2 separate regions of the Homo sapiens genome follow, and region 1 is linked to region 2. Evidence: fine-mapped expression QTL. A gene starts in region 2. The other region holds a variant in brackets. All regions are shown on one strand. Distances are between the middles of the regions. Region 1 overlaps HEMK1 (HemK methyltransferase 1, mitochondrial release factors N(5)-glutamine). Region 2 holds the start of DOCK3 (dedicator of cytokinesis 3).

The links. PIP is the estimated chance that this variant, and not a neighbour inherited with it, causes the effect.
Region 1: its variant is the best candidate, but not a certain one, in a credible set for the expression of DOCK3 in coronary artery (GTEx, PIP 0.70).

Annotation. Positions count from the first base shown.
Region 1 is chr3:50,570,701-50,581,438 of GRCh38, forward strand. HEMK1 (HemK methyltransferase 1, mitochondrial release factors N(5)-glutamine) reads left to right here. Exons shown (of 11, transcript NM_016173.5): 2 at 231-632; 3 at 1,010-1,101; 4 at 1,415-1,508; 5 at 6,352-6,486; 6 at 6,809-6,873; 7 at 7,126-7,175; 8 at 8,121-8,226; 9 at 9,144-9,239; 10 at 9,416-9,529; 11 at 9,681-10,738. The coding sequence starts at 405. The coding sequence ends at 9,717. It also overlaps a transcript of C3orf18 not described here. Among named protein-coding and RNA genes, the nearest start is that of HEMK1, 6.5 kb to the left of the region's middle. The variant G/A (reference allele first, on the strand shown) is at 7,408.
Region 2 is chr3:50,671,015-50,681,720 of GRCh38, forward strand. It overlaps DOCK3 (dedicator of cytokinesis 3), which reads left to right and starts at 3,913. Exons shown (of 53, transcript NM_004947.5): 1 at 3,913-4,286. The coding sequence starts at 4,250. LINC02019 (long intergenic non-protein coding RNA 2019) reads left to right here. Exons shown (of 2, transcript NR_183733.1): 1 at 1-162; 2 at 357-1,037. It overlaps MIR4787 (microRNA 4787), which reads left to right and starts at 4,066; the gene lies at 4,066-4,149. RefSeq lists a silencer at 3,877-4,166.

The DNA.
Region 1 (10,738 bases), 100 kb before region 2:
CACCAACCCGTTTATTAGCAGAGACTGAGCTATGGGCTCAGCCCACTCCAGCTAAAAATGTGAAGAAAACGTAAGTGGCCAAGACAAGAATGATCAAATAGGTGGGTAAGGCTCTAAATGGAGTCAAGGGGGTGTCAGAGCAAGAGCACAACTATTCTCAGGCAATGTATTGGTAGAAGGGGGGGTGTCATACAAGGCTCACCTGCTTTCCTGGTTCCTCTCACTCCCAGGGTGGCAACCAACTATATCTGAGGACCAGAGCCATTTTGGGGCACCAGAGCTTGTGACCTCTCCATCTCCACCCAGCTGGGTCCAGGGGCCACTCTCAGCACTCACCTCAGCAGCTGACATCATAAAGCAGACTTGGGAACCTGGAAGCACTCTGGAGAACCTTTCCCTGAGACATGGAGCTTTGGGGCCGAATGCTGTGGGCCCTCCTGTCTGGCCCAGGGAGGAGGGGAAGTACCCGGGGCTGGGCCTTCAGCTCATGGCAACCCCAACCACCTCTGGCTGGGTTATCCAGTGCCATAGAACTGGTCAGCCACTGGACTGGGGTCTTTGAGAAGAGGGGTATCCCTGAGGCCCGGGAATCCAGTGAGTACATCGTGGCTCATGTCCTTGGAGCCAAAACAGTTAAGTTTAGTGTTGTCAAGAGGACAGGAAGAGGGAGGAGGGAGGACTTGGGGAAGGGATATCCAGGTTTTCTGTTCACTAAGAGTGCTTAGCTGAGACTGATGGGATTTTTCTGAAGGAACGTCTTAGCGCCTGGCACACACTGTAACAGTTTGTTGGATGAATGAATATATCTCTGCCTAAGTGTTCTGGGATAGACACCTGGAAGCCTGGTGTTAGCTGTGTAACCTTAGGCAGGATGCTGCCCCCTCTGGGCCCAGATGATGAGAGGGTTGGGCCTCCAGACCAGTGCTGGGCAGGCATTATCCACATAAGACACCTGGGTTGGGGGCCTTGGGCCCAGTGAGCCAGCCACTTATATTCTCTGTGGGGACAGTTTCAGAGCCTGAGGCCGGCACTTTGGACCCAGCCCTTGACCTCTCAGCAACTACAGTGTATCCGGGAGCTGAGTAGCCGTCGATTGCAGAGGTGAGCACCCATGGATCAGACCTGAAGGATGTGTTCAGGGAGCAGCAGTCCAGCCTCCCCTATCCCCACCAAGTTCAGGGAGGAGGAGAATGTCCAAGGACTAGGGAGGTGTTGGGGTGCAGGAGTGGCAAGAGTGGGGCCGGGGTACTGAATAGGAAGAAGGGAGGGAGGGAGGGTTTTGCCTCAGGAGTCCCAAGGCCCTGGAGACATGGTCTTGCCTGATACCTTTGGCCACAAGTGGTATCTCAACCCAGGCATGGTCCTGTTGGTCCTAGCTCTGTCCCTGATGACCACCCAGCTGCCCCCTCTGCAGGATGCCGGTGCAGTACATCCTTGGAGAGTGGGACTTCCAGGGGCTCAGCCTAAGGATGGTGCCCCCAGTGTTTATTCCTCGGCCAGAAACAGAGGTAGGTGTGCCACCAGGGCAAGGCAGGATCAGGATGATGGTGGAGTTCAGGGCACCAGTCTTACCCCAGGCTTCCTCCAGGGGGCACTGGGGCCCCATGACTTCAGGGACAGTGCCTTTCTAGACATGTATTTCCTCTCTGACTGTGTTGGCAGAGCCCAGAGGACAGAGGATTCCTGTTGGTCCCCTTGACTGTTATGTTCCAAGCTATCAACCCAGCCTCTAGGTCTGGCAATGGCCCAGAGTGCCTCAAATAGTGCTGCCCAAGTACTTAGCCTGTTCTGCCATTTCTCTGGGAGCCATCCCATGGCTCACCCAACCCACAGGGAACAAATGTCTTCCAGCAGCTTCTCAGGAGGCATGGAGGAAGTGGAGAGGGCTCCAGCCGGACACCTGGAGACCTGGTATCAGCTGTGCAACCTTGGGCAGGTCACTGCCCTCCTGCCATCTCTGGGCCCAGATGATGAGAGGGTTAGCCCTCCAGCCCAGAGAATCTGGTGGCCCTCTTAGGTCTACTGACTGGTCTGGTAATCACCTGTGTTGTCCCTCAAATTACTAGGACTAGGGATGTGTGGCGCAAGTGTGTTATCCCTTGGTAAGGCACCCTGGTCCTGGAAGAGACGCTTTATATGGCCCTTCTTGGACTCCCCTCTGACCTTGTAGATGACAGAGCTGGGAGCCAGAGGGCGCAGACCAGGGAGTAGAGCTGGGTGAGAGCTGGTGGGCAAGCCAGAGGGCGCCAGGTTCTGAGAAGGAGTGTTTCTAGAAAGACCTAGGCACACAAACATTTCTGGGAAAGGTTAGTTCCCATTCCCCTGCTGTGGCCAGGGGGCCCCAAACCCTTCTTTCACTTTCTCAGCTTCTGTCCCCTAGCCAAGAAACTCTCTGACCCCTCTCCTCTCCATATCATGTGGTTGGGAGGCCAGGTCCTTGCTTCACTGCCCAGTGTCAGGGCAGGGACAGTAGGGAATCTGAGGCCTTGCTGAAGTCACAGGGCTGTCAAGGAAGGGAGCATGGGGGCAGCACGTGGACTTCCTGACTCCCAGCTCAGAGCCCCATCCCTCACATGGGGCTGCCCCATCTGGGATTGGCATGACCTAGGACACAGTATGGAGACCCAGAGCAGGGTGTGGCCTGCCACCTGCAGACTTTGGGAGGCTTACCTGTGGCTCCTGAAAACACGTGATCTCTGGCGAAGAGATCATTTGCTGTCTCCGGCTTCCCAGGGTCAGGGCATGGTGACTTTTGAGTTCCTTCAGAGCTGACCTGGCACCAGCCATATGTGCCAGGGTTCTGAGTATCAAGTGTGGACTTTGGCTCCCATGTGGCCCCCTGATTCTTGGATGGGTCTGGGCCAAGAGAGCAGCTCTACTGCAAGGGGTGGGGTGAGGGGAGATGCTGCGATTGGGAGGCCAGGTGCTCATCTTGCTGTGCAGACATTTCTGAGAACTCACCAGGTTCACCCCAATGTAAAGCCACATCGGGGGATGCCTTACCAAGAACTCAAGAGGACGTGGCCTGTGGCAGGGAGTAGTGAGAATGGGTGCAGGGGATGGTTTCTGATGAAAGGGGAGTCTGAAGTGCAAACTTGCAGGAGGCATGTGCCCAGTGAGTTGCATTTTCCCTAAGGGTGAGAAGGTGGTTCAGCCCCTGGCCTGGCAGTGAATACAGTAGGAAACTCAGGGCTGGGGGTGTGAACCATTCTCACCCAGCCTGCTGTGAGGCTGTACAGGTTGTGGGAGGCTCAGTGTTTTGTCTGTGATTGGCTTGAAGGAGGCAATGCCACCTCCCTGGGTCTGCCCCACCAGGGATGCCATCCTAATAGAGGGTACTCATGGGCACTTAGGTTCTGCCCAGGCCTTGGGCCAGCCTCTTGATGGGGTATGGAGTCCATGTTGGGGCAGCAGTTCTAGGCAGAGCCAACAACTGCCTGCCCCTCACCTCTTTCCCGCATGCGTCTGTGCCCCACCCTGTTCTTGGATTCTTACCATATTCACCTGGAGGGGGTGCCCTGAGCCTGTGACCAGCATGGCTTTTAGTCTTGCCGAAAGAGCCACCAGCGTTAGGCTGAGGGAGGCTCTTCACTAGGAGGAGAAGAGAAAGTTTCTGGACTCCTTGGGCTGTTATCTACCCCTGCCCCAGGTGGCTCTACAACCAAGATGAGTTTCCGGTGCTCTGGAGTGTTATGGCAAACAAGAGGCCACTAGTGGTGGCAGGGGCTCAGTTTCTTAGCTTCTTACCCTCCCCAAGGTGGCCATCCACATACGTGGTGTGTGTCTTTGAGGTCTTTGAGTATCTCTGTGAGGTGGCTGGCCAGTGTGGCTGGCTGAGGGGTCATTCTCCAGCCAGAGTAGGTCTGTCTATGACCAGGAAACCAAGAGAGGCTTACACACCTGACAACAACTGGTCACCCTACCAACCTCTCAGCTTGTGGCCTCACCACTGAGACCACAGGCTCTCAGCCACAGCCCTATACTGCTCACTCTGTACCTGGCCCAACCTTGCAGGCTAAGCTTGCCACAAGTACCTTAGTGGTCTCCAGTAGTGCCTGGCACAGGGCTGGTGAGAGCTAGTGAATACACACTCTCTCCTGCTGGAACTGGGCCCCCTCACCCACAGGCAATCATTTGTTAGGTGCAGAAGAGGCTTGGAACATGGAGGGTTGGACCTGCTGGCCAAGTTCTGCCTGCTTTGGACTTGCCACCCTCAGGGTGGGTGAACATTGTTGCTGGGTTTGGGGGCCTGGAAGGGTGAGATGCTTTTTGGAACCCAGCACTGGGGAACTTATGTGGAAAATGGGTGTGAGTGATCTGGAGCCCTCTGCTCCATTGGGCCTGGCTGATGGCATTGGGGTGTGGGGGAGACCTGGGGGTGTGAGACTCAGAGGGTGGTGCCACAGAGAGCTTGCCCATCACTTAGAAAGTAGCCAAGAGGGCCAGGCGCTGTGGCTTACACCTGTAATCCCAGCACTTTGGGAGGCTGAGGCGGGTAGATCACCTGAGGTCGGGAGTTCGAGACCAGCCTGACCAACGTGGAGAAACCCTGTCTCTACTAAAAATACAAAATTAGCCAGGCACAATGGTGCATGCCTGTAATCCCAGCTACTTGGGAAGGCTGAGACAGGCGAATCGCTTGAACTTGGGAGGCGGAGGTTGCGGTGAGCCAAGATCGCGCCATTGTACTCCAGCCTGGGCAACAGAGCGAAACTCTGTCTCAAAAAAAAAAAGAAAAGAAAAGAAAAAAAGAAAGTAGCCAAGAGGTTTGTCTGTGGGCCAAGCCCTGCCAGTGTGGGACACACTGCGATGAGTCAGACCTCAGGTCTTCCTATTATGGCGTCTGGTGGGAGAGGCACACCCCATCCTTAGGCTAGACCTTAGGCTCAGGGTGGAGAAAGCCGTGGTAGAGCCTGGCCCAGGCTTGAGGAAGGCTTTCTGGAATAGGTAGTCCTCTTTTCAGATCAGGGAAGCACCCACTTGCTGCCCACCATCCCCAGCTCCCTGAGCCAGTCTTTCCTGAGACCTGGGGTCCCAGGAGTCCTGACCCTCTGGGGGGCTTCTCTGCCCACATCCAAAGGGATGCCTTTGAGAAGGAGCTACACTGCCCTTTCCTTGTCTCATGCCTGGCTACTCAGGTGTCCCACTCCACTGCTGGTTAGAAAAATTTTGGCCATTGGACGGCAGGAGCCTTCCACCCTTTACCCCTACCCTATGTTGGTTTACAGGCATAGTCCTTGCAGGCAGTGGCTGGGTAGGCAAGGCTTGAAACCCTCTTGTTTCCAAAGTGACAGTGTCTGAAAATGTCCTCCTGCTGCCAGGGCAGGTACAGTGCAGTCAGGCACCTCCCTCTGCACCCATGCCTGTTGACCTATGCCTGTGTATGCCACAGCCCTCAGGTCCTTAGTCAGGACCATGTCCCCCCATGGCCCATCTCCTCCAAAAGAGGGAATTCCCTGTCCCTTTGGCCTAGGAGCCTCCCTGGGGGCCTCTCAAGCCCAGCTCTGTGAGGAGGCTGGGGACACACCAGCTCCTGATTCTTGGCCACCATGAAACCACAGGCCAGGCTCAGGTGGGGCCTTGACCCCAGGCCTCAGTTTCCTCATGGGACACTTGTGAGGATTTAACAGATTAATACAGGAAAAACTCTGGGAGCAGGGTCAGGCCAGAGGGAGTGGACAGGAACTATCAGGTATGGTTCTTAGCTTTTTTCTTTTGAGATGGAGTGTTGCTCTGTCTCCCAGGCTGGAGTGCAGTGGCGCGATCCTGATCCACTGCAACCTCTACCTCCCGGGCTCAAGCAATTCTCCCTCTCACCTCAGCCTTCTGAGTAGCTGGGACTAGAGACATCCGCCACCATGCCCATGCCTGGCAAATTTTCACACCTTTAGCAGAGACGGGGTTTCACCATGTTGGCCAGGCTGGTCTCAAACTCCAAACTCAAGTGATCTGTCCACCTTAGCCTCACAAAGTGTTGGGATTACAGGCATGAGCCACCGTGCCCAGCCAGTTCTTAGCATTTCTGTAAGCACAGAATGGGAGGATGTCTGTAAAGGGCTTAGCTGGGGTTGATTGAACACTTAACATGAAACAGGTGTGGATTAGTGCATTTAATCCCCACCACATCCCCACGAGGTGGGCTATCCTCAACTGGGCTCAGATGTACAGATGGGGAAGCTGAGGCCTGGAGGGGCAGGGTGACTTGGCCATGCCCCAGCTGACATGAAGGTCAGTCTGGCTTTGGCTACCTCCCCTTCCTACGTTCACAAGGGTAACTGCTTAGGCCTCTGTACCAAGACCCCCAGGAGCCACGTTGGCACCGACTCTGATCCAGATCCCTCTGCTTCACAGGAACTGGTTGAGTGGGTGCTGGAAGAGGTGGCCCAGAGGTCCCATGCTGTGGGATCCCCAGGCAGCCCCCTCATTCTGGAGGTGGGCTGCGGATCAGGAGCCATCTCCCTCAGCCTGCTGAGCCAGCTCCCCCAGGTGAGCCCCTCCACCCACTCTGGATAGACTGTGACTGACACTCACTGTCCCTCCCATTAGTGCTTCCCCCACATCCCTCTGCTAGGAGCGCTTGAGGGGAAGCAGCTGGATGAGGGAGGACAGGGCTGCCCCTAGCCCACTGTGGTTCACAGACTCTAACGCCTACCACATCTATCTGGCTAGACTTTGGCCAAGAAGAAAAGGCTGTTGGGTATTTCCCTTCTCTTCTGGTGGGGGGTTGGAGGAGGGTCCCCCAGGCCCAGTATCTTCCAGCATCTCTCAGCATTGCCTTCCACATATCCTCTGTTTGTTCTTGGGACAGAGCCGAGTCATTGCTGTGGATAAGCGGGAAGCTGCTATCTCTCTGACCCATGAGAATGCTCAGAGGTAGGTGGGGGAGTTGCACTTTGGGGCCTAATCTTGACTCCTTTTCAGGTTTCAAACTCACCAATGTCTGATTTCTACTCCCAAGAAGGAGGAAGCAGTGGGGTAGCCTGGCATGGGTCCCATGGGGTTCTGAATGGGTAGTGGGCAGTGAGTATCTTGCCAGTCCAAGAAGGGTTGACTATAAGACCTCATTCTTGTAGTGAAGGGTAGGGGTCTGCCCCCGTGCCTACCCCTTTCTCCCTGTCTGTGTAGGCTTCGGTTGCAGGACAGGATTTGGATCATCCACCTCGACATGACCTCAGGTACCCTCCCCTGCATGTTCCTTGAGAGAGGGAGACTAGATGCAGGTGCTGCTGGGTGGATGAGGCACTCCGTGGAGATGGAGGGAGAGCTCCCCCAACAGCCACACAGCCACACACAACACACACACATACACGTGTGTGTGTGCACGTTTGTGGCAGCTCAAACGAAGCCTTGGCTGAGGACAGACAAGGTGCTTTTGCCTCCTAGGCTGACCTGACCCATAAGGGACCA[G/A]CCACAGAGAACTTCCGAATTCCTCACAACCAATGAGTTAAGGGCTTGCTTGTTGGCAACAGATAAGCAAAAGCTTAAAATAATGCCTTCAGGACCAAAATACTTGAGTGCCCCTTTCCCCCTGCCTGGCAGGGGAAGTGGTCCAGGCACTGCACAGCTCAGCTATAGCCTTTACAGTGTCTCCAGGCCTCCAACTCCAGTTCTGGCTCCATTGCCTTACCCGTGGGATCCTTGAGCCTCAGTGCCCCCTCCATGGAATGTGATATACTTGGTGTAGCACCTGGCACAGGGTGAAACCAGTAGTCAGAGCCATCAGGAATTGGCTGATGAGGCCAGGCCTACCCTCCATGTACTCTCAGTCCATGTTGGCTATAAGGCTAGTGGAGCTACAGAAGAGAAAGGCTCTTTTCTGCCTAGGCAATCAGGGAGGACGCCCTGGAAGTGGCACTTGAACAGAGTCTTGCATAATAAGGAGGATTTTTGGCAAGGACACTCTATGCCTTGAAATGAGGGGCTGCCATGTTAAAGCATGCACATTCCCCACCAGGCTGCCAGCTGGGGACCCTGGGCACTAATTTGCAGGTCTGGCTTATCAGATCCAGAGGCAGGCCCAAGGTGTGGCATGGTGAGAGGGACATGGTGGCAGGTGGAGCTATCATCCTTTACCTCCCAATGGGTTAGTCCCTACTGTGTGTCCTCTTCTTTGACGACAGAAAGGAGCTGGACACACCTGCCCTGGGGCCCCATGGACCTGATTGTCAGCAACCCTCCCTACGTCTTCCACCAGGACATGGAGCAGCTGGCCCCTGAGATCCGCAGGTGCTAAGCAGGGTGGGCCAGGGAGGCCAGGCCTGAAAAGGCCTGATGGGATTAGTCTGCCCTCGAGGACCACACCATCTGGAGGGACAGGGGAGTTGGTGCTGAAATGGGCAATGGTGTTAAGTTGACGCACTCGAGAGCCCACAGTCCTACCTAGATTCAGCTTCTACCTTCCTACTTCCTTACTTCCTACTAAAACTACTGGACAGCCACCGAACCTCTCTGGACCTGTTTCCTGCCTCTAGAAAAAGAGAGGTAGTGCTCTGCAGGGCCACGGGAGGACTCAGTGACGACTTGAAAGCATCAAACACAGTGGAGGGCTCATACAGGGTGCTCAGTAGATGGGCGCATCATTTTATAGAATACTGAGGCCCAGAGAGGGAAGGTGTCTTGTCTGTGGTCGCATGGGGGCTCAGTGGGAAAGCCGGGACTAAAAGCTGGCCCCAGGCTAGCTTTGTGCCAGGCCATCCTGCTCTTACACAGGGGCTGAGAACCAGGGGCAGCCCAGGAGTCCTGGATGGGGCAGCAGTCATGTTGGATGGGGCTGGGGTGTTGGCTCTCCCTTTCTGGGCTCTCAGGAGTGGTCAGGGCTAGCCCCAGATCTCCCAGACCAAGAAGAGGAGCAGCCTGTGGGGAGACACTCATGCCCTGACATGAGTCAGTGCATCAAGAGAGGCCATCAGCCAGTGGGATTCAGCAAGCATGCCTGGCGCTGCCTGGTAGGGTGCTGCCCATGGGAGGAAGAGAAGAGGAGCTGCCACCCATTTGGGGCCCTCCTTCTCTGGGTCCTCAGATTTGCCCTTCAGCCCAGAGTGTAAGTTCCACAGGGCCCCATTCATGGAGGCCTTGCCCATGCCCTCCATGCATTTCAGATACCCCTTTCTCAGGCTGTCACCTCCCACTGCTTTGCCTTTCAGCTATGAAGACCCCGCGGCCCTGGATGGTGGGGAGGAGGGCATGGACATCATTACCCACATTCTGGCCTTGGCACCCCGGCTCCTGAAAGACTCTGGGTATGAATGGGATGGGTCTCCTAGGTCTGTCCCCAGCAGGCTCCTCTGCTCCTAATGTGTACTGGGCAGGCCCTGGCAGAGGTCAGCACAGGACCCTCACCTCGCCAGCCCAAGCAGCCCAGAAGGGCAGGCGCCAGACCTGTCCTGCTGAGCCCACCCATTTCTCCCCCATGTAGTAGTATCTTCTTAGAAGTGGACCCAAGGCACCCGGAGCTTGTCAGCAGCTGGCTTCAGAGCCGGCCTGACCTGTACCTTAATCTTGTGGCTGTGCGCAGGGACTTCTGTGGGAGGTAAGATCCTAGCCCCCTTTAGCCCTGTAGCATGCTGGTCTTTCCACTGGGGCCATCCTCAGCCCTGGCTGTCAGGAGAGTGTGCTGTTCCCACTTCCTGTTCATTCCCTGAGGCCCAGGTGGTAACCAGCCCCTGTCCCTGTCTCCTCAGGCCCCGGTTCCTGCATATCCGGAGGTCTGGGCCATAGCATGGCTGCCCTGTGGATGCCTTGTCAGTGCCGCCAGCCTGACCAGAGGGGAGGTGGATGGCACTTTCCAGAGCCCAGGTTCTTATGGCATTTCCCAGGGTTCTGTGATTTCCCCATGCTCTGCATTTCTAGGATATTTCTAGGACACCTGGATTGGCTCCATCACATCAGAGTGGCTGAGGGCAGTTGCTCTGTGTTGGTGAAATTGCTGTGGGGGTATCGGGGGATATGGCCAGTAAAGTATTGAGAGACTAACAAATGGTGACCTAATGTTTTGTCCATGACTTGCAGGTCCCCTGACCCCCTTACTCCCAGGTAGCACTGGGGCAAGGGTTTCCTTCTGCCCCAGCAGGGCTGGCCGTCAGTCCCCTGCTTGGTAGTGGTGTGGGGGTGCAGTGTGGAGGAAGGCACGTGAGTCCTCACTCCTGGCCTTGGATACCATGGGTCCTGGCATAGAGCAGCTCACTCCCAGGGATTGATTAGTCCTCCACTGCCCTGGGTGCATGCGTACACAATTCCCTGGCCAAGCCTGGCTCGAGCACAGGAAGCTCATCTGCGTTTTGGCTCAAGGATGACTGCCTGCTTTCTGGAGGGGAGGGTCTGGAGGTCTTTGCTGCACAGTTCCTGGGTCGCACATCCACGTTCATTTAACTGAAGGCTTGAGCCAGTGAGGGGTGTTTCCTTTTTATCCCCATAGCTTTTAGCTAAAACATCCCTCCCGAGTTGACCCCCTGGGGTTTCAAATAACCCATGTGTCCCTGGTTGGGGCTGGGGAGAGTGAGAAGCTGAGATACTGGGCACAGGGTTGTGGCCTCCACCCCAGCTCTGGTCTGTGCAGACTCATGGCCACCAGGAGGCCTGCAGATCCAGCCTTCCTGTCAACAGCGACAGGAAATCTCTAGGTTGGTGAGTGCTGGTGATGTGAGCCTACATCAGGGTGGGTCCTAAGAAACATGGCAAACCAGGCTGTCTCATTCCACTAGACTGCCCCCTGCCACCCTGGCACTTCCCAGGGCCTGGC
Region 2 (10,706 bases):
TCCTGAAAGGAGGCTTCCTAAAAGGTGTTGCTTTGGGGTAAATAAGAGGTGCTGGTGAAGTGAGACTAGCTTGCGCATCTCTCTGCCATGAAGGAAACTAGCTCCGCAGACGTTTTACTAACCACAGCAGACCCCCTCCTTGAGGAACCCAGAAGGGCAGAGGTAAGTTGGGTAACGTGTTCTTAAGTCTTCCATTTACCTGACCCTGGGGTTCATATGGGGATAAGCTCCAGCTGCTGACACCTTCTGATCAAGAGAAGGCAGAATGTCACCACTATCACCTGCACTTTGTTTGGATTTGCCTCTATACCCACTGCATTTCTCTGATGTTTTTTTCTACCATTCTGTTTGGACAGAGCATCAGATGAAATCAACTGCTGAGAGAGGGAAGTGAGTGCTGTGTTGGCACCGCTGCCAGAAACTCTTGAGAATGAGCATCGTGTGCCACTTATCCACTGCTTGCCGACTTCAGTAGCAAGAGCCTCCAGAATGCTCATGGATAAACATCATCTTTGTGGCCACACATTGTTTTATGAGCTGAGTCATCAGACTGGCTGGCTCCTTAAATGCTGCTGTGTGATTCTCTAGGCAGCAGAAAACAAGGAGAGAAGATATGAAGTGTATCTCATCGAGCTTTGTAGAGGGCCAGTATCATTCACCAAAGGTGATGGGGGATTTACCATTATGGAGTTTGCTTGTGATAAAAAATTATTGATCAACTTAAACTCTAAGAGAAAAAGATGATGCTGTCTGCATTTCTTGTAAATTATTTATAAAATTTGTTTGGGTATCGGCTATTTTTAACAGCCACCAGTCTTAACGAATTTCCTGCAGAAAACTTGATTCCTTCCTTGCTCATCGAGTTGCAATTTATCATCTAAGGTAATGAGTTAAACCCAAAAGTAACAGTGACATGATAAGTGAAACTGTTTGCATACTTTGTTTTTTAAATTGCTCTATCATGTTTATCTTTTTTATAGCTACTCAATAAGACATTGCAATGAATTTTTAATTAAAACCAATATGTCTATAACAAAGAAATTTAATTAATTAGAGTTTCTGAGTTTGCCGATTTGTGACTTGCTGAGGTAAACATCTCAGTTCTCTCTTCCAACCTATTTCATTATGGTCTCAGAAAACGTACAGGGAGATTATTCACCCAAGAGTGTATGTTAAATTCATGTTAGGTGGTAGGCACTATGTTAGTCTCTGTGTAAGGTAAAAATAATTGAAGAACAATCCTTGTCACTGAAGAAAAAAACAGATGTTTGCCAATGTGAGAAGCAGACCCATTTGATCTCTTGGAGAAGGGTGGAATGAGTAAGTGCTACAGAAAAGGTCATAATGGGTGCAAAAAATCCAGCTGAACTGAGGGCAGTTGGGGAAGCCTTCTTCAGGAAAGTGGCCCTGAGACAGCTCTTGAAGCATGATGCAGATGTGTGGGTTTCAAGAGTAGAGGACACAAGCTGAGGGACACTCTATGCAAAAACCCAGCCAGAACAAGGCAATGGTCTGAAGTTGGGATGGCCCTGGGGAATTCTGGGAAAGTAGTTTCCAGGAGGTGACAGGGTCAGAACGCAGACCTTCAGGTGGTGAGAATCAAATGAATTACATTGAAATAAAAGGATTTGGAATGGATGATTCTCCTCTGTAGTCAGATGGAGAGAGGAGGAAGAGAGAGGGAATGGGGGGATGAGGGTACCAACAGGGCAGGTCTTCCTGGGACCGCAGGAGTCTGTGGAGCAGGTCAGGGTGAAAATGGGAGACAGGGCAATGATAGTTGGGGATCCTGAGAAGTAGCAGGCAGTGAGCCTGGTGGTGGCGAGAACACAAAGAAGAGCAGTTGGAGAGGAGGGGAGGTTACTGTGCTGAGGGTCTCGATTTTCAGAGGCAAGCTGGAAGGCAGCTCATATGCTGAGAGAGTGTGTGTGTGGTGTGTTGAGTGGACTGGGAGCCTGAGGAAGGAAAGGATCAGAGCAGATGCTAGGGGGATAAGAGAGCAGGTGCATGGTCCTGCTGAAGGCCAATGTGTGCTATGCCCTTTTGCTTCAACTCACAAAAACAATCTAAATTTATACAAACAGCAAGAGTGTAGGAGTCCAGGCTTACTAAGTCCCTTCCTTCTCACTTTGGTCCCTTCTTTTCCCTTCCCTGGTTGGGTTTAATGCCCTTCCACCCTGGAGCTGAGGTGTGCAATCATGGAGAATTTTCTTCATCTGGGAAAGCCATAATCTAAGATGGATTCAGACTGGGAACAAGAGTATAAACTTTGGAAAAACTGGCCCTTAGGCTCTGTGACTGTCATCACATACAGCAGACAAGGGAGTGAACTTAGAGGATGAAATAAGAGCTTTAAGGTTGTTCCCTGAAGGCCTGCGTAGCTCAGCCCCACTTGTTGAATAGCTACCTGGAGAGTTTTGTAAGAATGTGGCTTCATTCCATAGAATACTTCCATGGTGGCCACCGGGGAGGGGTCTATCTTCTTGGAACAGTTAGCTCTTTCGTTATGTTCTTGGACACCCCTGCTACCCCTAAAAAGAAGTGTACCTGGCTATTGAGAAATTCTATCATTCACAGAACAGACATTTTTCTGGGCGGGAGTGGGCAGCTATGATTAGTGAGAGGAGGAGCCTAAAGGTCCGAAGGTGGGAAGGGGTGGCCATAACCCAGGGGAGCACAGTCAGGCCTGGGAGGAGTTACCAATCATGACACTTTGAACGAAGAATCAACAAGATCTGTTGATTGCAAGATATTCTTCTATTAGTCTGGCTTCCCATGCAACAACTATACAACAGGTGCTGGGTTGGTGGTGAGGGTTTAGAAAGTTGATTTTAGCCTGGAGCTTGCCTTCTGGGAGCTGACAGTCTTATAAGGGAAATAAGACAAACCGAACATAGCTCCAATTCCAGACAAAGAAGGAAAGGAGACTATGGGTCAGGGCAGGCTTCCTGGAGGTGAGGGGCTGAGCTGGGCTTTGAAGAGTGGTGGTGTCTGAGAGTGCTAGTGAAGGATGACACCAGGGTTTTGACTTAGTAGTGCTAGTGACAGAGATGGGCAAATCTGCTGGGATTAGAGCATGTGGTCCAAATGTAGGTGGAAAGGAGAAGTCCTGCAGTTCCTGTTCTTTGGTAAGTGGTTGACTTGGGGGTCACAAGGTGACATTTACAGGCATCAGAATGAATGGATTCTTAGGGAGGAGAGAGAGGAGGAAAGTTTCCGGTAGGAGCCAGTTCTTAGGGCTCCAAGGGAGGCAGACACCCAGGAGCAGCAGATGCCGTGTCCTGGGTAGGAACACGAAGGGCCCAATGAAGCTCTTCCTTACTAGCAAGGCGGCTGTTGATTGTTCTGGCCCCAAACATTCACCACTCAGGCCATCTCAGAGAAGCAAGAACCCAGGAGGTGTCAGCGGCCTCAGCCCACAGGGGATCCAGGAGAGAGGGGCACGAGTGCACCCCACCTGGTTCCCTCGTGGCGACTCCATCCTGCGGGCCCTGGGAATGCACAGGGTGGCTCCGGGGACCTTTCCGACAGCACTGTGGGTGACACTGGGATGGGTCTGAAAATGGTGTCGTGTCCTCCTTTTCTGGATCTCCCCTCTCCGACCAGGAGGCCTGTGGCCATCTCGGGGCGCAGGCAGGAGGCACTGGAAGCGGAAGCGAGTGGGGAGTCCGGGTAGAGGGAGTCGCCCACCTGACCGGCTTCGCCCCCTCCGGGGTTTGCTGCAGCTGAGGGCCCCGGACCAGCGATTCTAGAAGCCGGTCCGGGGCCGGGCAGTCCAATAGCTTCTCGCGGATTTCCCTCCGCTGGCGCGCAGCAGCGGCGCGTGGATTCGCGCGCGGGCTCGGGACGGCGCGAGCCCGGGCAGCGCGAGCCCCTGCGCGGCAGGGAGTGGCGCATGCGCGGGCGTCCTGCGAGCCCGCTGGGGCGAGCCGAGCCGCGGCGGCGCCGGGAGCCGGGCGGCGGAGCTGTGAAGAAGCAAGCGGCGGCACGGGAGCAGCGGCGACGGACAGGTGGCGAGCCTTCGCCCGCGCCGCCAGGGGCTGCTGGGCCACCCGCGGAGCCTCGCGGTCCAGACGTGGCGGGGGTGGCGGCGGCATCCCGGACGGCCTGTGAGGGATGCGCCGCCCACTGCCCCGCGCCGCCTGACCGTCCCCGCCTCGACTCGCGGTGCGCCACAGCCGGGCCCGCGGCCGTCCCCGCCGCGTTGTCGCCCGGTCGCCGCGCCCGCGGGGCCGCGCCCGGCACGGCCATGTGGACCCCCACGGAGGAGGAGAAATACGGCGTAGGTAGGTGAGGCTCAGGCCTGGCCGTGGCGGGGGTTCTGGGGGACGCGCCCAGCTCCCGGCCCCGCCTGGATTCGCATCCTCGTGCCCCCGCCACTGCCCGCAGGCTGCGCGGCCTCGGCGCGGGGCGAGCGCGGGGTGGGGGCAGGTGCGGGTGCGGGTGCGGGTGCGGGGGTGGGCGCGGGTCTCTGTGCAGAGAGGGCGGCAGGGGGCGCTGGCGGTGCGGCCTTGGCAGGTGCGGCCCGCGGGAGGGGTGGGCAAGGCCCGGGCAGTTGCCCGAGGTTTCTGGTGTGGGCCACGGGGCAATTTTACCCGATAAACCAAATTCTGGGAATATGTTTTCTCCCCTCCAAAAGCTCGATTTTAATGAGTTTCCGCACCTGAATTGATGAGCCCGATGGCTGTTTATTTTTGATCTGGAACCTTACAAGAAAACGGATGAAAAACGTTGACATCATTTTCCCAGTTCAAAAATTTGGACATTTGACTGCAAATGTTTGATCTGTTTTAATTTGTTTTGCCTTTAGTATTAGAAATAATACCTTACGATGGGAAATGTTTTTGGACATGTATCAATGTTTATACGGTTTTTTTTTTAAACCCTGTTTTCAGATGAGACCTTATTCCTCTTAGAAACCTTTTTTTAATGTTGTAAGTGTTAAACTCCAGAAGCTAAATAATTCTTACAATATTCAACTTCTTTAAAAAGAATATTCAGTAATTTAAAGTATTGAATGTTTTACAATGTTAGTGTTTTGTGGCAATTACATGATAGAGTTAAGCCTCATTGCATCACCTATCATCTTGTTCAGTTAGAAACAGATTTAAAATGTTGAGTGTACAGGTTTTGTTTTTCCTAAGCTCGTAATGGAAAATTTTAGATAGGAAACCTGTCTAAACATAGATTTTTGTTTCCCATCTTTACCGCAATTTAATCAAGATTTAGTTCACAATTCACTACAAAATAACTTGAAACTGCAGTGGTAACGAATGTTTTGGAATGCTATCAGGCAGGTTATCGTGTGAAAATTGAATTTATTTAAATTCGAGGACCAGCAGAGAGGTCTTCTATTCTGGTAGAAGATCTTGTTTTAAAAGGTAACTTTCTGAAACAATTAGGTATGTTAGGATGGAGGTGATAAAGGGAGCTCTGGTCCTAGAGTCTCTATTGAGAAGGAATTGAGAAATGATGCGAAGAGCTGGGATTCACCTCTAGGGACATTTTACCCCTTCTCTTAGAGTATTCCCTGAATACTGAGTTGATTCTGTGAAGTGAGGAGTTGGTGGTTTATCTTCTCCATAACTCGCTCCCAGAACTGCTGAACTAGAATAACAAATAATTGATGTGAGTGGTCAACTCTCCAGTGGCACCCCATGATTGATTTTTTTGGAGGGGGGAGGAGCCCTATTTTGGCGGGGGTGGGGGCGTGGGGGGAGGAGCCCTTGAATAGTGGACAAAGTGGAATTCAGAGTCCTAGCTTCTCTTTACTGGTGGTGTGGGCAAGTAATTTAACATCATTTAACGTCATTTTATTAATGTATAAATTGGGGATAATGTTTACCTATCTTACAGGATTGTGAAAGTGAAATGAGAACGTGCTGAATGCTTAATAGTTTCTTCTTTTCCCTTAGTATTTAGACTAATAACACTAAGTGTGTTCTGAGACAGAGCCAGTGCAAGGTAATCAAGATAGGTACATGTGAATCTCAAAGCACTAGGATTTGGTGTGTGATTTTCCCAGCAAGATGCAACGAAATTCTTGCATTCCTAGGATTGTGTTTTTAGCTTTAGAAAAATTGTTATTCCCTTTGGAGGGCCACAGCATTGGGCTCAGGGCAGAGCTTAATGCTTGCTAAATGAGAGAGACAGTTACACTGAAGACATTTTCATAGCAGCTGTGGTTTAGCATAACTTAGATGCCTTTTCTACCAAACCAAGCAACTCTCTATTTATCTCACAGTCTTCCACTGTCCCTTCCTTAGTTATGATCTAAAAGTTTTTGTGTAAATTGTTTAAAACTCAGGACACATTTTTTTTCATAAGGATGTTAGGGCTACACTTCTAGAACTTTTCATAAAATCCACTTTATAAAGTAGCTTATACATTATACTTATGAGAAAAATAGTCAATTAAAACGGCATTTTTGCTGCATCATTTGATTGCTATGAGGGCTAGCTTGAAAATATAACCATTATCATTTTCCTGTGAGAAAATGTTTGAGTTTCAGCTTTGATTTTTATGACTAACTTGGAGCACAGATTTGTGTCTTTGTTTGTCAACCTATAATCACATAGCAAGGAGGGAAACCCCTTACACTTACTTCCTACCAATTTGGAGAAATTTGTGGAGGAGGGCCTCGAGGGCCTCCTTTTGCCCTGATGTTAGTGAGGGAAGGAGTCCCCTGTTGCAGCAGTACAAAGGGTTTTTTCCACTGCAGCTGTTCATTTGTATTTGACATTGATAAGGCTTTGAGATCCTGTAGTAATACTTATTAAATTTTTTATAATATAGGAATTCTGTACAGGTTATAACATGACTGAATTGTTTGGTTTATTCATTTAGGATGAGGTGATGACTGAGCCCCCCTTTCCATTGTAATATTCTGTGAGTGATTTTAGGCAGTGGGGAGGACATTATCCTTTCTGAGGGTCAGTGATAGGCCTGTCAGTGTGCCTGGGACTCTCACTTAGGTAACCCCATGTCGATTCCCAGAGTAGTCTTAATGTTATCATTATTACACAGATAAAGAAACTGGATCCCAAAGGTTGTTAATTTTTTTTTTTTTGTCCTTCAACGATTGTATATTTTTCTTAATTTTCTTCTTGGCAGTGGGCAGTATTTTGTGAAATACTTGACTGTCTTGCTTTCTTTTTGTGGTACTGTAAGGTACTGTTCTTTACTGTACCCGTTCGCCCGTGTTTTGACTTCTTATGTCCCTTTCCCTCTTAGAGAATCTCTGCTTTCCTTTCTGTTGCCATGAATGCTTGGAAAGTCCTGCATCCTTCCATTCTTTATTCTACCTTTCCAAGAAGCTTCCTGCTCTAAAGTGTATTAGGTGAGAAAAATCCAGCTATTTTTGTGAAACACCTGTCTTTCCCTATACTGACTGTACCCAGAGTACCAAATATAGAATACAAAAACCAAGAAAATGCTTTTCTCACCCTCTAACAGGAGCAACAGCAGGAGCAGCAAGCACCAACAGTTTTTAAAACAAAAATGTTTGTAATTACACTCCTTGAATAGAAAAGTGGTAAAGGTTTGAGTACATAGGTATTAGTTTGACGTCTTAGAAGTGGAAGCTGCTTCAGAAGGTCATCTTGTTTATTCTGCTGCTGTCATTAGGCAATTTTTTTTTTTTGAGAGGTGGGGTCCTGCTCTTGTCATCCAGGCTGGAGTGCAGCGGCATGATCATAGCTTACTGCAGCCTTGAACTCCTGGGCTCAAGCGATCCCCCTGCAGCAGTCTCCCAAGTAGCTGGGACTACAGGTGTTTACTACCTTGCCTGCCTAATTTTTTTTTTTCTTTTTTTGAGACGGAGTCTTGCTCTGTCGTCCAGGCTGGAGTGCAGTGGCGTGATCTCGGCTCACTGCAAGCTCTGCCTCCCAGGTTCATGCCATTCTCCTGCCTCAGCCTCCCGAGTAGCTGGGACTACAGGTGCCCGCCACCATGCCCGGCTAATTTTGTTTTTGTATTTTTAGTAGAGATGAGGTTTCACCATGTTAGCCAGGAGGGCCTCAATCTCCTGACCTTGTGATCCGCTCGCCTCGGCCTCCCGAAGTGCTGGGATTACAGGCATGAACCACTGCGCCCAGCCTTGCCTGGCTAATTTTTAAATTTTAATTAAAAAAAATTTTTTTTAGTGACATGGTCTTGCTATGTTGCCCAGGCTTGTCTCAAACTGCTGGCTTCAAGCTATCCTCCCACCTCAGCCTCCCAAGTCACTGGGATTATACCTGTGAGCCACTGTGCCCAGCTAAGGCAAATTTTTGAGTAATTTAGGGCATTTATTGCTTATTTTTTATTAATCCCTCTTAGTAGAACATGAAAAATTTTTCTCATTACCAATCTGAAGACCTTACATTTTAGTTTTGTAATGTTATATTTATTTTTTCCTATTTAAAAAGTAATGCGTATTTTATGCATTATTTTTACCTAACTTCCTTTTGGTTAGGTTTCTCCAGATAGGGAAGAAAAGCACTTAAAAACAAACAAACAAACAAACAAACAAATCCTGAGTCCTTAAAAGAAACTTGTAAAGATCCTGTGGTGCAGGAAAAGAATCTGAAGGTGGGGAGGAAATAGATCCTTGAAACCAGATCTGGAAGAATTAGTGTTCACAAAATTTGAGTAAATCTGTTGGTAAATGGACTAGAACTCACCAAAATAGTCTGAAGACAGTGTGCTCTTTAGTTATTTATTCAGTGAGGGAAGCCCAACCTTTGCAACCTCTGGAAGGGCCCCAATACCCCTTTAGAGGTAAAGACATCATCCACTAGGGGTAGGAAAGATTTCATAGACCTATGACTTTATTTTGTTCTGAAAAGTGAGGATGTGCTTGATGTCTTGTTTAGTGTTTATGGGGAACTTCCTTATTCATGATTCTACTTGAGCTTTACACTATATCACCACCTCTCCCCTCTTTTTTAAACAGATGAGAAAGAAGCTTTAGCTGAGAGAAATTAAGTAACTGATCTAAGATACTTTAGATAGTAAGTGCTGAGTTGAGATTTGAACCTAGGACTTTGAGATTCTAAGCCACAGATTGTATTATTACACCGTGTCCTCTGAAAGGAATTGTCAGTAGTATATGACTGTGGCTTGAAAGATAAGACATACTCTGCAGTTTTCAATTTAAACTGGATAGTTATATTTAAGGAATTTTATTTCTGTATTGGACTATTTTTTTCTTTTTCTTTCTTTTTTTTTTTTTTTAGACAGAGTCTTGCCGTGATGCCCAGGTTGGAGTGCAATGGGGTGATCTCGGCTCACTGCAACCTTCGCTTCCTGGGTTCAAGCGATTCTTCTGTCTCAGCCTTCTGAGTAGCTGGGATTACAGGTGTGCGCCGCCACACCTGGCTAATTCTTTTCTATTTTTAGTAGAGACGGGGTTTCACCATATTGGCCAGGCCGGTCTCGAGCTCCTGACCTCAAGTGATCTGCCCGTCTTGACCTCTCAAAGTGCTGGGATTACAGGCATGAGCCACCGTGCCCTGCTTTTTTTTTTTTTTTTTTTTTTTTAAGACGAGGTCTTGCTATGTCACCCAGGCTTGTGTGCTATGGCATGATCGTAGCTCATGGTAACCTTGAACTCCTGGGCTCAAGCCATCCTCTCCAGTAGCTAGGACAACAGGTCCATGCCACCATGCCCAGCGAATTTTTAATTTTTTTTTTTTATAGAGACTGGGTCTTGCTATTTTACTCAGGCTGGTCTTGAGCTCCTGGCCTCAAGAGACCCTCCCTCCTGGGGAGTGGCGGGTTTACAGGTATGAGCCACTGTGCCCAGCCTGTTGCCTACTTTTTAATGGGATTATTTGGTTTTGCTGCTGAGTTCCTTGTATATTCTGTATATTAGTCCCTTATCAGATAAATAGTTTGCAAATATTTTCTCCCATTCTGTAGATTGTCTCTTTACTCTTTTTCCTTTGCTGTGCAGAAGCTTTTAGTTTAATGTAGCCCCATTTGTCTATTTTTGTTTTTGTGGCCTGTGCTTTTGAGGTCTTAGTCATAAAATCTTTGCCTAGACCAATGTCCTGAAGCATTTTCCCTATGTTTTCTTTTAGTAGGTTTATAGTTTTGGGTCTTATGTTTAAGTTTTTAATCATCTTAAGTCTATTCAGTAGACTTCAGATTTCTAGTTCGTTTTATCATGCAGTATTAGAATATGATTTAGAAACATTAAGCTAAATTGTAAACATGGCACCTATTTCTGTGTAGTATTAGATGCATTCTGAAGCAGGGCAGTCTCAAAAGAATGGTCATTGAGGTTGAAAGTACTTTAACCTTCATAGCATATTTTTACATTGGTGCTAAATTTTAATTTTTAATAGTTTGTATTTTGAATTTTTTAAAATTTTTGTGTCTTTATTCTTTAAGAATGATCTGAAATTATTCCCAACATGTAAGCATTATTGGGTATGCTATATTAGGATTTTAATTCCAATGTTATGCTTTTATTGTAATGAACAAGCCAAACCTGTTTATGATTATGCATTTAATTGTTTTGCATACCCCCTTTTGACAGCTTTTGCAGGGAGAAGCAAGCATTTTTTTCACATAAAGGCTCTTAAAACCTTAAATTTTTTTTATACATCACCAAATTATTTTAGCTAAGTACTTGCAGTTGATTTGCTATATCACACCTTAGGGATACTCTAGTAAAGATAATTACTATGTTGGGAAATGTCATTCAGAAGCTTCCCATT